Linked DNA regions of Homo sapiens: region 2 is linked to region 1. Evidence: fine-mapped expression QTL. A gene starts in region 1. The other region holds a variant in brackets. All regions are shown on one strand. Distances are from middle to middle. Region 1 holds the start of GPR150 (G protein-coupled receptor 150). Region 2 overlaps LOC101929710 (a long non-coding RNA gene).

The links.
Region 2: its variant is fine-mapped to the expression of GPR150 in whole blood (INTERVAL, PIP 0.95).

Annotation. Positions count from the first base shown.
Region 1 is chr5:95,616,716-95,621,982 of GRCh38, forward strand. It overlaps GPR150 (G protein-coupled receptor 150), which reads left to right and starts at 3,372. Exons shown (of 1, transcript NM_199243.3): 1 at 3,372-5,267. The coding sequence starts at 3,561. The coding sequence ends at 4,865. RefSeq lists enhancers at 2,928-3,543, 4,740-5,239 and silencers at 3,713-4,112, 4,203-4,252, 4,270-4,564, 4,273-4,722, 4,943-5,002.
Region 2 is chr5:95,989,461-95,994,963 of GRCh38, forward strand. The region is part of intron 1 of LOC101929710 (a long non-coding RNA gene); the gene reads left to right. The region is part of intron 2 of LOC105379096 (a long non-coding RNA gene); the gene reads right to left. It also overlaps a transcript of CAST not described here. Among named protein-coding and RNA genes, the nearest start is that of ELL2, 30 kb to the left of the region's middle. The variant G/A (reference allele first, on the strand shown) is at 3,038.

The DNA of each region.
Region 1 (5,267 bases):
ATAAACCTATAGAAAAACATTTTTGTAAAATTGGTTAGAAAAAAGAGAATAATAACAAGCTTCTAGAAAGAAAAAAACAATGATCATATCTAAGCAAAACATGAATCAGATGGCTTCAGTCTTCTCAACACAAACACTCAGAAGCCAGAAAGGGAATGGAGTAATGCCTTCAAAATTCAGAAGGAAAAGATTTTCAAAAATAGGATTCCAAACCCAGCCAAATAATCAGTTAGGCAATAGGGTAGAATAAAGAAATTTTCAGACATGTGGGATCCCAAATAGTTACCTTCTCTCAAGAAGTCACTGAAAGGTGCTTTCTTCCCAAGCAAGAAAATAAACCAGGAAAGAAAAAAATCCATTAAATCAGAAAACAAGAGAACCAGCATGAGATAAGTGAAAGGAATCCCTAGGACGATGCTGACGTGAGATGCCAGGATGACCGCTGGCCCAGAGGGCAACATGTCCAGACAGAATCTGCATGACTCAAATAAGGAGTACAATGAGGTCTCTTACCACTTAGTTCTCAGGCTTTGTACAACCTTGTAAACCTTATGAAATATTAGATGATGTGTTCTACCAAAAAGGAAGAAATCAAGGAGAAAGACCAGAGATCCAAGAAACAGGAACTGCAACCCAAGAGAAAGGCAGAAAGTTTCAATGACGACAACAAATGGAGGTCCGCAGATGGTAGTTATGCAGTAGGCCTTGGGAGAAATTAGCCCAAATAAGAGAAAAATGAAAGTCTCTGGTAAAGAGGTTTCCGTGAAAAAAAATTGGAGCTGCTATATTACGTTTTGAAACTGACCTTGTGGAAATTGCTTGGGGGGACTATTTGAGGGTACAGGAAGAATTAGCTATGATAACAATGAAAAGTAAGAAAAGGCAATTATTAACTTTAAAAATAACAAAAAATAATATTCACAATATACAACTCAACTGTGAATATTTTTGTTTCATAATAATATAAACACCAAATATAAGTCTAACCCAAAATTACAGTATTGTTCTAATGGTATGGGAAATGGAAATAGTGACAGAGGTGCGAGAGATAAGTCTTTAATAAGAAGTTAACAGATAATATATCAATTTGTTAAATCAATGAATAGCATTACATATATATTATTTACTATTATGAATTAAGTCAATGCCAGAAGAAAGAGCAAATAGAGTCTAAATTGGTTCCCTCTAGAAAGAGGGGATAAAGAAGTGGAGATGTATAGGACAGGGAACTCTTTATGTTATCAGCCTTCTAGTTCCATTTGACTTTCAAAACTATGTGCATTGTATAATTTTAATAAGAATTAGTTTAGGCCAGGCCCAGTGGCTCATGCCTGTAATCCCAACACTTTGGGAGGCCAAGGTGGGCAGATTCTTGAGCCCAGGAGTTTAAAACTAGCCTGGGCAACATGGCGAAACTTAGCCTCTACAAAAAATACAAAACTTAGCTGGGTGTGGTGGTGTCTGCCTACAGTCCCAGCTAGTTGGGAGGCTGAGGTGAGAGAATCACCTGAGCCCAGGAAGTCGAGGCTGCAGTGAGCTATGATCATGCCACTTCACTCCAGCCTGGGCAACAGAGTGAGACCCTGTCTCAAAAAGGGAAAAAAAAAAAAAAAAAAGAATTTGTTGAAAATCAATGTTTTATCAGATCTTACTAAAGTTCTGTGAAATTTCACTATAGTCATTTTGAAATGCTAATATATAAGAGCATTTCAACAAATTTGAGACAAATGATAGACTATCTTGAGAAACACTGAAATGATACTGGCTAGGAAAATCACTGAATGATGAACATTGCTCAGAGAAGGCTCCCTGGAAGAAGTGCATTATAAACTGGGATGATGTGTGTGCATAGAAAAAGGCCTTGGATAAAAAGTTCTAAAGGGAGAGTATGAAAATCAAACCAGGATTTTAGATTTTCCAAGGCTATCACTCTAGCTTTCTTAAATGTCCCACCAGGAACACTTATTCCTATGTCTCCACAGAGCTTCCTTGGGCTCCTCTGGACAATACTGGCATAGTATAAAAGGAATTTTTTCTTAGGTGATGGATTTATAGTCAAGGCAGGCATTTATGCTCGAAGGTATCTGAAAAGCATCGTATATCCACTAATTCATCAACTCAACACATACCCACTGATAACTACAACCTGTCAGACCAGAGCGAGGCACCACAGAGATGATGATGAAAATAACCAAGGTTTCTGGCCAAAGGACAACAGCTTGGGAAATGGGATTCCTACAGCAGCTGGCAGGACTATCATGGAACCCACCAAATCTTCCTAGGCCATGAATCTTAAAGTTCCAAATGTTTCCTCAGATTGGGAATGTGAACCCTAGACAACACTCATACCTCCCTGGCCCCCAGGCCAGGAAGTACAGGAAATTCTACTTTCACCATGATTAACGTGGAGGGTGCATAAAAAGACAAATGGATGCTTCCAACAGGGAAACTAAAATGTGTTTGTGAGGAGACAAGGCTAAAATGAAAGCAGCAACATTTAATCTAAACCATTTCCTGTGACTTGGATTTCTTTTTTAAAAAAATTGGCCGCCTTATCACTTTCTTAGTCACCTTTTCTCTAGGCTTATTGGAGGCGTAGCCCCTCCTAGCAACTTCCCATCTGCTGGAAAACAGAATCAAGAGAATGAGGAGTGTGATGACGCATCCTTCACTGGATGAAAATATTAGGAGAAAAGCAATAAATGCACTACCATTTGCATAAAACCTATTAATGCCCTCTTCAGACTAATGAAATGAATTTTACATCACCAAGAAAGCAGCTGTGACCCACTGCTCCTAGTATTTGGAACGATCTGCAACACTGCCACTCCTAAAAGCAACATCATTGACTTTAGTACCCTCTAATTAAAATACTTTCATTCTTGGACAGAGAAGACACATCTTGATCAAAATTCAGCTAATAGGTCTCCTCTTTGCTCAAAACGCTGTTAGGTTTCTTGTGTTCCTGTTTTTCTCATGCTCGTGCAGATCCATGGCATTTCAAACCTTTAAAATAAAAACTAATGTCTTTTCTATTTTTTTCCTACTGGCAATCACATTGGGGTGGTGGGGGCGTGTGGTACAATCTCAGTCAAGAGGTCCTCTCTTGTGTGGGTGCTGGCATAACACTGGCCGTATACAATGGCCAAGCAAAGCGACATTCTGTCCTGCTGTGCTTTACACGTAAATAGAGAATGGATGAGGTTCTCAGCGCCCAGGGGTCCGCGGCTTCCGCGAGGGTAGCGTCGGGGGCCGCTGCAGAGATTGGAAGAGTACCCGCCGGGAATGGGAGGGAAGACGCGGGGAAGGTGGAGAATAGGAATCATGTGTGTTCCTCGAGTGTACAACCCACATTTGAGTGACAAATCACGAGGACAATCGACAAAAACAACTAAGCGCAAAGCCGCCCGAATCCATCTCCCTCTCTGTGCGTGTGCCTTTTCAACTAACTTTGGGAACTCGTATAGACCCAGCGTCGCTCCCCGCGCCGCCTCGCCTCCACTTTGGTTTCCCGCGTCCTGCCCGCCCTCTTCGGTGCCTCCTCTTCCTCCGGGACAAGGATGGAGGATCTCTTTAGCCCCTCAATTCTGCCGCCGGCGCCCAACATTTCCGTGCCCATCTTGCTGGGCTGGGGTCTCAACCTGACCTTGGGGCAAGGAGCCCCTGCCTCTGGGCCGCCCAGCCGCCGCGTCCGCCTGGTGTTCCTGGGGGTCATCCTGGTGGTGGCGGTGGCAGGCAACACCACAGTGCTGTGCCGCCTGTGCGGCGGCGGCGGGCCCTGGGCGGGCCCCAAGCGTCGCAAGATGGACTTCCTGCTGGTGCAGCTGGCCCTGGCGGACCTGTACGCGTGCGGGGGCACGGCGCTGTCACAGCTGGCCTGGGAACTGCTGGGCGAGCCCCGCGCGGCCACGGGGGACCTGGCGTGCCGCTTCCTGCAGCTGCTGCAGGCATCCGGGCGGGGCGCCTCGGCCCACCTCGTGGTGCTCATCGCCCTCGAGCGCCGGCGCGCGGTGCGTCTTCCGCACGGCCGGCCGCTGCCCGCGCGTGCCCTCGCCGCCCTGGGCTGGCTGCTGGCACTGCTGCTGGCGCTGCCCCCGGCCTTCGTGGTGCGCGGGGACTCCCCCTCGCCGCTGCCGCCGCCGCCGCCGCCAACGTCCCTGCAGCCAGGCGCGCCCCCGGCCGCCCGCGCCTGGCCGGGGGAGCGTCGCTGCCACGGGATCTTCGCGCCCCTGCCGCGCTGGCACCTGCAGGTCTACGCGTTCTACGAGGCCGTCGCGGGCTTCGTCGCGCCTGTTACGGTCCTGGGCGTCGCTTGCGGCCACCTACTCTCCGTCTGGTGGCGGCACCGGCCGCAGGCCCCCGCGGCTGCAGCGCCCTGGTCGGCGAGCCCAGGTCGAGCCCCTGCGCCCAGCGCGCTGCCCCGCGCCAAGGTGCAGAGCCTGAAGATGAGCCTGCTGCTGGCGCTGCTGTTCGTGGGCTGCGAGCTGCCCTACTTTGCCGCCCGGCTGGCGGCCGCGTGGTCGTCCGGGCCCGCGGGAGACTGGGAGGGAGAGGGCCTGTCGGCGGCGCTGCGCGTGGTGGCGATGGCCAACAGCGCTCTCAATCCCTTCGTCTACCTCTTCTTCCAGGCGGGCGACTGCCGGCTCCGGCGACAGCTGCGGAAGCGGCTGGGCTCTCTGTGCTGCGCGCCGCAGGGAGGCGCGGAGGACGAGGAGGGGCCCCGGGGCCACCAGGCGCTCTACCGCCAACGCTGGCCCCACCCTCATTATCACCATGCTCGGCGGGAACCGCTGGACGAGGGCGGCTTGCGCCCACCCCCTCCGCGCCCCAGACCCCTGCCTTGCTCCTGCGAAAGTGCCTTCTAGGTGCTTGGTGGTCAGAGACGGGTCATCTGTCGCTAAGGCGCAACCTCCAGGGAACTCGAGGCCTGCCAGGGTCTGTCCAGATCACAAGGGGCAGGAGAGTCTGTGAGAGAGTGACACTGAAGTTGTCCCCTTCCTCCACTCTCCTATTCCCTTCTCATGTTTACATTTCCCTATGCTCTTCCAGTTTCTCTTCTTCCCTACAGTTCCTCTCATATCTCCCCATTTGGAGACAGTGAGCCACTGGAAAGTTGTAAAAACAAAAACAGTTATTTTTGCAGTTTTCTTTCACGCATTTATAGTGCTCTGGATAATGCCATTTATTTTTGCTGATTACCCAACTTTCAGTATTTGCTGTGTTATCATCTGTATTTACTTATTTTGAATCGTGCTTAAATCAAATGT
Region 2 (5,503 bases), 370 kb after region 1:
TCATATAAGCTGCTTTCCCAGCTGAAATAACATAGCAGATTGGTGCTGTTTGAACACTGCTAATTGCTGAACATTCTTAAACTAGTAAATAGGCCTGATTACCTGGACTCCAAACAGTAAGTCAAACAGACCAGATCACTTTTGATAAGAACACTCTATTAACCTTATATATTCCCATTGGATTATCTTCCAGGGATATGAAATGTTAAGTTATAAATGTCTTCTTTTTTTTTAATTTAGAAAGACTTTAGGAAAAATTGTTTGGGATATTTGAAGGTAAGTTAAAGATCATTATGTCCAATGTATGATTTAGTAGATAATTATCAGGTACTATACCATTAGCTGAGAGGTCAACAGTAAAGATGAACCCATTCAGAACAGAAAGTCCTGATTTACAAGATCTTGTTGTACCCTGCCATGTCTGTTTGGGTAACTGCAAGCAAACAGTAATAACTCTAACAAGGAAACAGTGAGCTTTTAATAAATAAAATGTAACATGAGTTCTTTATTAGACCCTTAAATCTCAAAACTAGAAAGCTTTTTAGAATAAAATTCCACTTCTACTCACCCTTTGAAATATTCACTGGAAACACAACTCTAAGATTCCTTCCATTTTCCAGATTCTAGAGCATTCATGTTAAAAATAAGCTTGAAATATTTTATTTAATAATTTAAAAATTATTTTAATTAAATCTTGCTGATGTGAACCATGTCTGTTCCCTTAAGCCTAGAAATGGAGTCTGGAACACAGCAAAAATGACCAAAATATAGTATCATGTCCAGAGTCAGGAAATGTCAGTTTTAGAGAATTGCCAACTTGCTTTGTGAGCTCACTTAGTTTAAAGGAAGTTTCCTTATCAATAGGAGATATAGGGAGTTTAAACAATTTGATGAGGAAGTTTCCTTATCAATAAAGTATAGGGGCAAACTAGTATTCTGAAGTTTTTTCTTTTCTGGATCAAAAATTCAATAATAAGGTTTGTTTTTATAATATTAAAAATATCTTACTGTTTTCTTGGCTTACTATTGAAAAATAGTAGAAAGAAGAAAAAGGAAACATCTACAGTCCCACCAGTCACCTTTAAAATTATTATATTATCTTCTAGTCTTTTTGTTCTACACTTAAAAGAAATTAGAGTTGAGCTCATACAGCATATTATATATGCTTAACATTATAATGTCAAAAACTTTTTATAAACATTTAAAAATGATTATGTGAATATAAGCATTTATCTTCTTATTGGATATTTTACATAGTATCATTTAAAAAATTAATTAATTTTTTATCTTTATTTTTAGAGATGGTGTCTCACTGTCACCCAGGCTAGAATGCAGTGGTGTGATCATAGCTCACTATAGCCTTGAACTTCAGGGCTCAAGTGATACTCCCACCTCAGCCACCCAAAGCACTAGGATTACAGGTGTGAGCCACCACACCGAGCCCATTTTAGAAAAGTATTATAAGCAATGCTTTTGTGAAAATATTTGTACTTAAGGGTCACTCTTCCTTCTAACTCTAATTAGTGTTTTCTCCACAGGAGAGAGTCCCAGAAGTGGAAATACTAGGTGAAATATATGAATAGTTTAAAGGTTCTTGTGCATTTGCTTTCCAAAAAAGTTAACTGTATTACCATCAAAAATTTATTGCTGCACAGAAAGATGCCCACTTTGCCACAACAAGGACATTGGATAATTTTCATAAAGAATTAAATATATGGTTCTCCTATGCTTGGTCTCTTAAGATTTGAAATTTTAACCAAGTATGAAGACATCAATTCCATATAGTCTATTCCTTTCACACAGAGAAAAGCTTTGTTTCACGATCACAGGCTGTGTGTCTACCAGCTGTTAGTGAACTTTAAGATTGCAGGTTGGCTTAGCACAGATTGTTATGATGACCATACTCTAAAGGTATTTTAAGGATAATAAATTTGTCTGTTTTTTCCAGGCTAGTTAATGGGTACAAACATACAGTTTGATAGAAGAAATACATTCTAATGTTCAGAGTAGAGTGACTATAGTTAACAACAAGTTTTGTTTTTTTTTTTTTTTTTTTTTTTTTGAGACAAAGGTCTCACTCTGTCACCCAGGCTAGAGTGTAATGGTGTGATCTGGGCACACTGTAACCTCTGCCTCCAGGGCTCAAGCGAGTCTCCTACCTCAGCCTCCTGAGTAGCTGGGATTATAGGCACGTGCCACTGCTCCCGGTTAATTTTTGTATTTTTAGTGGAGACGGGATCTCACCATGTTGGCCAGGCTGGTCTCGAACTTCTGAGCTCAAGTTAGTCACCCGCCTCAGCCTCCCAAAGTGCTGGGAATACAGGTGTGAGCCACCGTACCTGGCCAACAATATATTTTATATTTCAAAATTGCTAGAACAGAGGACTTGAAATGTGTCCAACCCACAGAAATTATAAATACTCAAATACCTGACTTAATCACTACTTATTCTATGTGTGTAACAAAATATCACTTGTACTCCATAAATATGTACAAATACTATGTTTCAATATTTTTAAAAAAGTATTTGAGGCAATGTTGGGCTCTATTTTCAGTAACAGATGAATTAGATCTCACTGAACTAACCTTCTGCAGGTAAGAACTATAGACTCTGGGAAATGACATTAATAATATGCAGCAGCTACTTAAAGGTTCAGAAGAGTGAGCAGAAGCATATGGATCTTGACGAGAAATCCATGCTTGGAGGAGGCAAGGGAAATTAAAGAAAATTCTAAAGAGAATTCTCTAAATGGATTTTATGGATTGGAAAACTCCGTGTTATTAAAATGACAATTGTCCTCCCAACCGATACATAGAATCATTTCAATTCCAATCAAAATCCTAGCAAGCATATAAAAAAGAAATTGACTTTAACATTATCAGTGATGTTATGTGGATATCAGGTGTCTCCTGATATTATGTGATGAGAGGGGTACTTCTCTATGCTTTTTTTTTTTTTCCTTGAAAACCCATGGGCCTAGTCTAATCATGAGAAAAACATCAGATAAACCAAACTGGGGGACATTGCACAAAATAC[G/A]TGATCAATACTCTTCAAGATTGTTAAGGTCATGCATGAAAAACAAGGAAAGGCTGAGAACTGACACAGACCAGGAGATTGGAGAGACAGGATGACTAAATGCAATGTGATATTCTAGATTAGATCTTGGAACAGAAAGAAGACATTCATGGAAAACTGGTGAAATCCAAATAAAGTATTTAGTTTAGTTAATAGTGATAATGCCAATGTTGGTTTCTTAGTTTTGACAGATGTACCACAGTAATGTAAGATAATAATATTAGGAGAAACTAAAACTGGGTGAGGGGTATGTGAGAACTATACCACTTTCACAAATTTTCTGCAAATCTAAAATTATTCCAAAATAAAAAGTTTATTTAAAAAAATTGTTGAGTTTATTCTAAAATTTACGGAAAGGCAAAGGACCTAGAAAATTCAAAACAATTTTGAAAAAAAATGAGGTATTTAGACTTTTTGACATCAGTGTAGTGTGGGAAGTAGAAAACACACTTTTTAAAAATTAAAATAGATTTCCTGATTTCATGACTTATTATACAGCTATAATAATCAAGACCATGTTATCAGCATAAAGATAGAGATATAGCAATGCAACACAATAGAGAGCTCAGAAATAGAGCTTTACTTATATGATCAACTGATTTTCAGCAAAAGCACCAAGGTAATTTGGTGGGGAAAAGGATAATTTTTCTAACAAATGACACTAGAACAATTGAATATCTTTATGGAAAAAATAAACCTTGATCCTTACCTTAGACCCTACACAGAAATTAATGTGGATTGTAAATTTAAATGTAAGGGCTAAAGCTAGAAAATTTAAATGTAAGAGCTAAAGCTAGAAAAAGAATTATAGGAGGAAATATTTGTAGTGTTGGGTTAAACCAGTGGTTCTTGCCAGGGGTGATTTTGTACTGCAAGGGACATTTGGCAATGTCTGGAGACATTTTTGGTTATCACAACTGGAGTGGAAAGGGTGCATTTGCTAGCCAGTGGGTGTGGCCCAAGATGCTGATAAACCTCCCACAATGCACAAGACAGCCCCTGCAACAAAGTTCAGTATGTGCCAAGTTTGAGAAAGCCTAGGTTAAGAAAGGATTTCTTAAATCACAAAAATGACTCTTACAAGAAAACAATCAACAATGGACTTCCCCCAAATTTAAAATTTTATTTTGTGAAAGGTACATTAAGAAAATGAAAAGGCAAGCCACAGACTGGGAGAAAGTATCTGCAAAACACATTTGACCAAAGGCTTGAATTCAGAATATATAAAGAACTCTTACAACCAATAATAAGAAAACAACTTTGGGCAGAGGATTTGAACAGACGCTTCAAAAAAGAACATCTATGTTTGCCCAGTAAGCACATGAAAAGGTACTCAACATCACTAGTTATCAGGGAAATGCAAATTAAAACTAATTTGCATTAATTTAAATTAAATTAATTTAAATTTAAATTAATTACTTTAAATTAAAGAGATACCACTACAAACTCACTAGAATGGCTAAAATTAAAAGCCTGGCAATCTCAAGCATTGACAAAGATGTGGGGCAACTGGAACTTCCTACTTTGCAAGTGGGTCTGCAAAGTGTTCAACTACTCTGGAAAACAACTTGATACTGTCCATAGTAAGCATATGCTAACCATATGACCCAACACTCTCCTATTTTGTAGGTATTTGTCCAAGAGAAATGAAAATATGTGTCCATACAAAGAGTTGTGTGTCAGTGTTTATAACCACATTACTTGTAATGGTGTCTAACGAAACAATCCAATTATCCATCAACTGGGTAACTGATAAACAAATTGTGGTATAATCATACTATGGATTTCTATTTTGCAATAATAGAAATATTGATAACATGGATGAATTTCAAAAACCTTATGTTAAAAGAAATCACAACATTATATTCCATGTGATTCTATTCATAAGAAATTCTGGAAAAGGTAAAACTATAGGCTGAGGCTGGGTGTTAGGGGGAGGGTGGAGGAGGATCAGTGCAAAGAGGAAATTTTTTTGGGTGATGGAAATATTCTATGACTTGATTATGGTGATGGTTACATGACTATATACAATTCTGATAACTCATCAAACCGTATATTTAAAATAACTGAATTTTATGTTAAATTTAACTCAGAAATATACATTGAAAAAGGAATTTGAGACTGAAATTAATAAGACACTATTAAAAGAAGATGAACCAAATAATAAAGGAGAAAAAGTTAATTGTACCTAAAAGTTCAAGATAATTATTGCAGTTGAGCACTAAATTTAGCTTCCAGATTCCTGGCAGATGATACAAAAATGAAAACTGCATGTGCTATATACTTTTTATTATGCCATAAATGGAAAAGTCAGAAACCTGTCAAAAGACTACACATTTTAACAAGCAGAAAGGAGTAATTTTCTGTGAGAATCATCACATAAAGGACATTAAATATCACACTGGGCAATATTTTTCAAAAAACTTT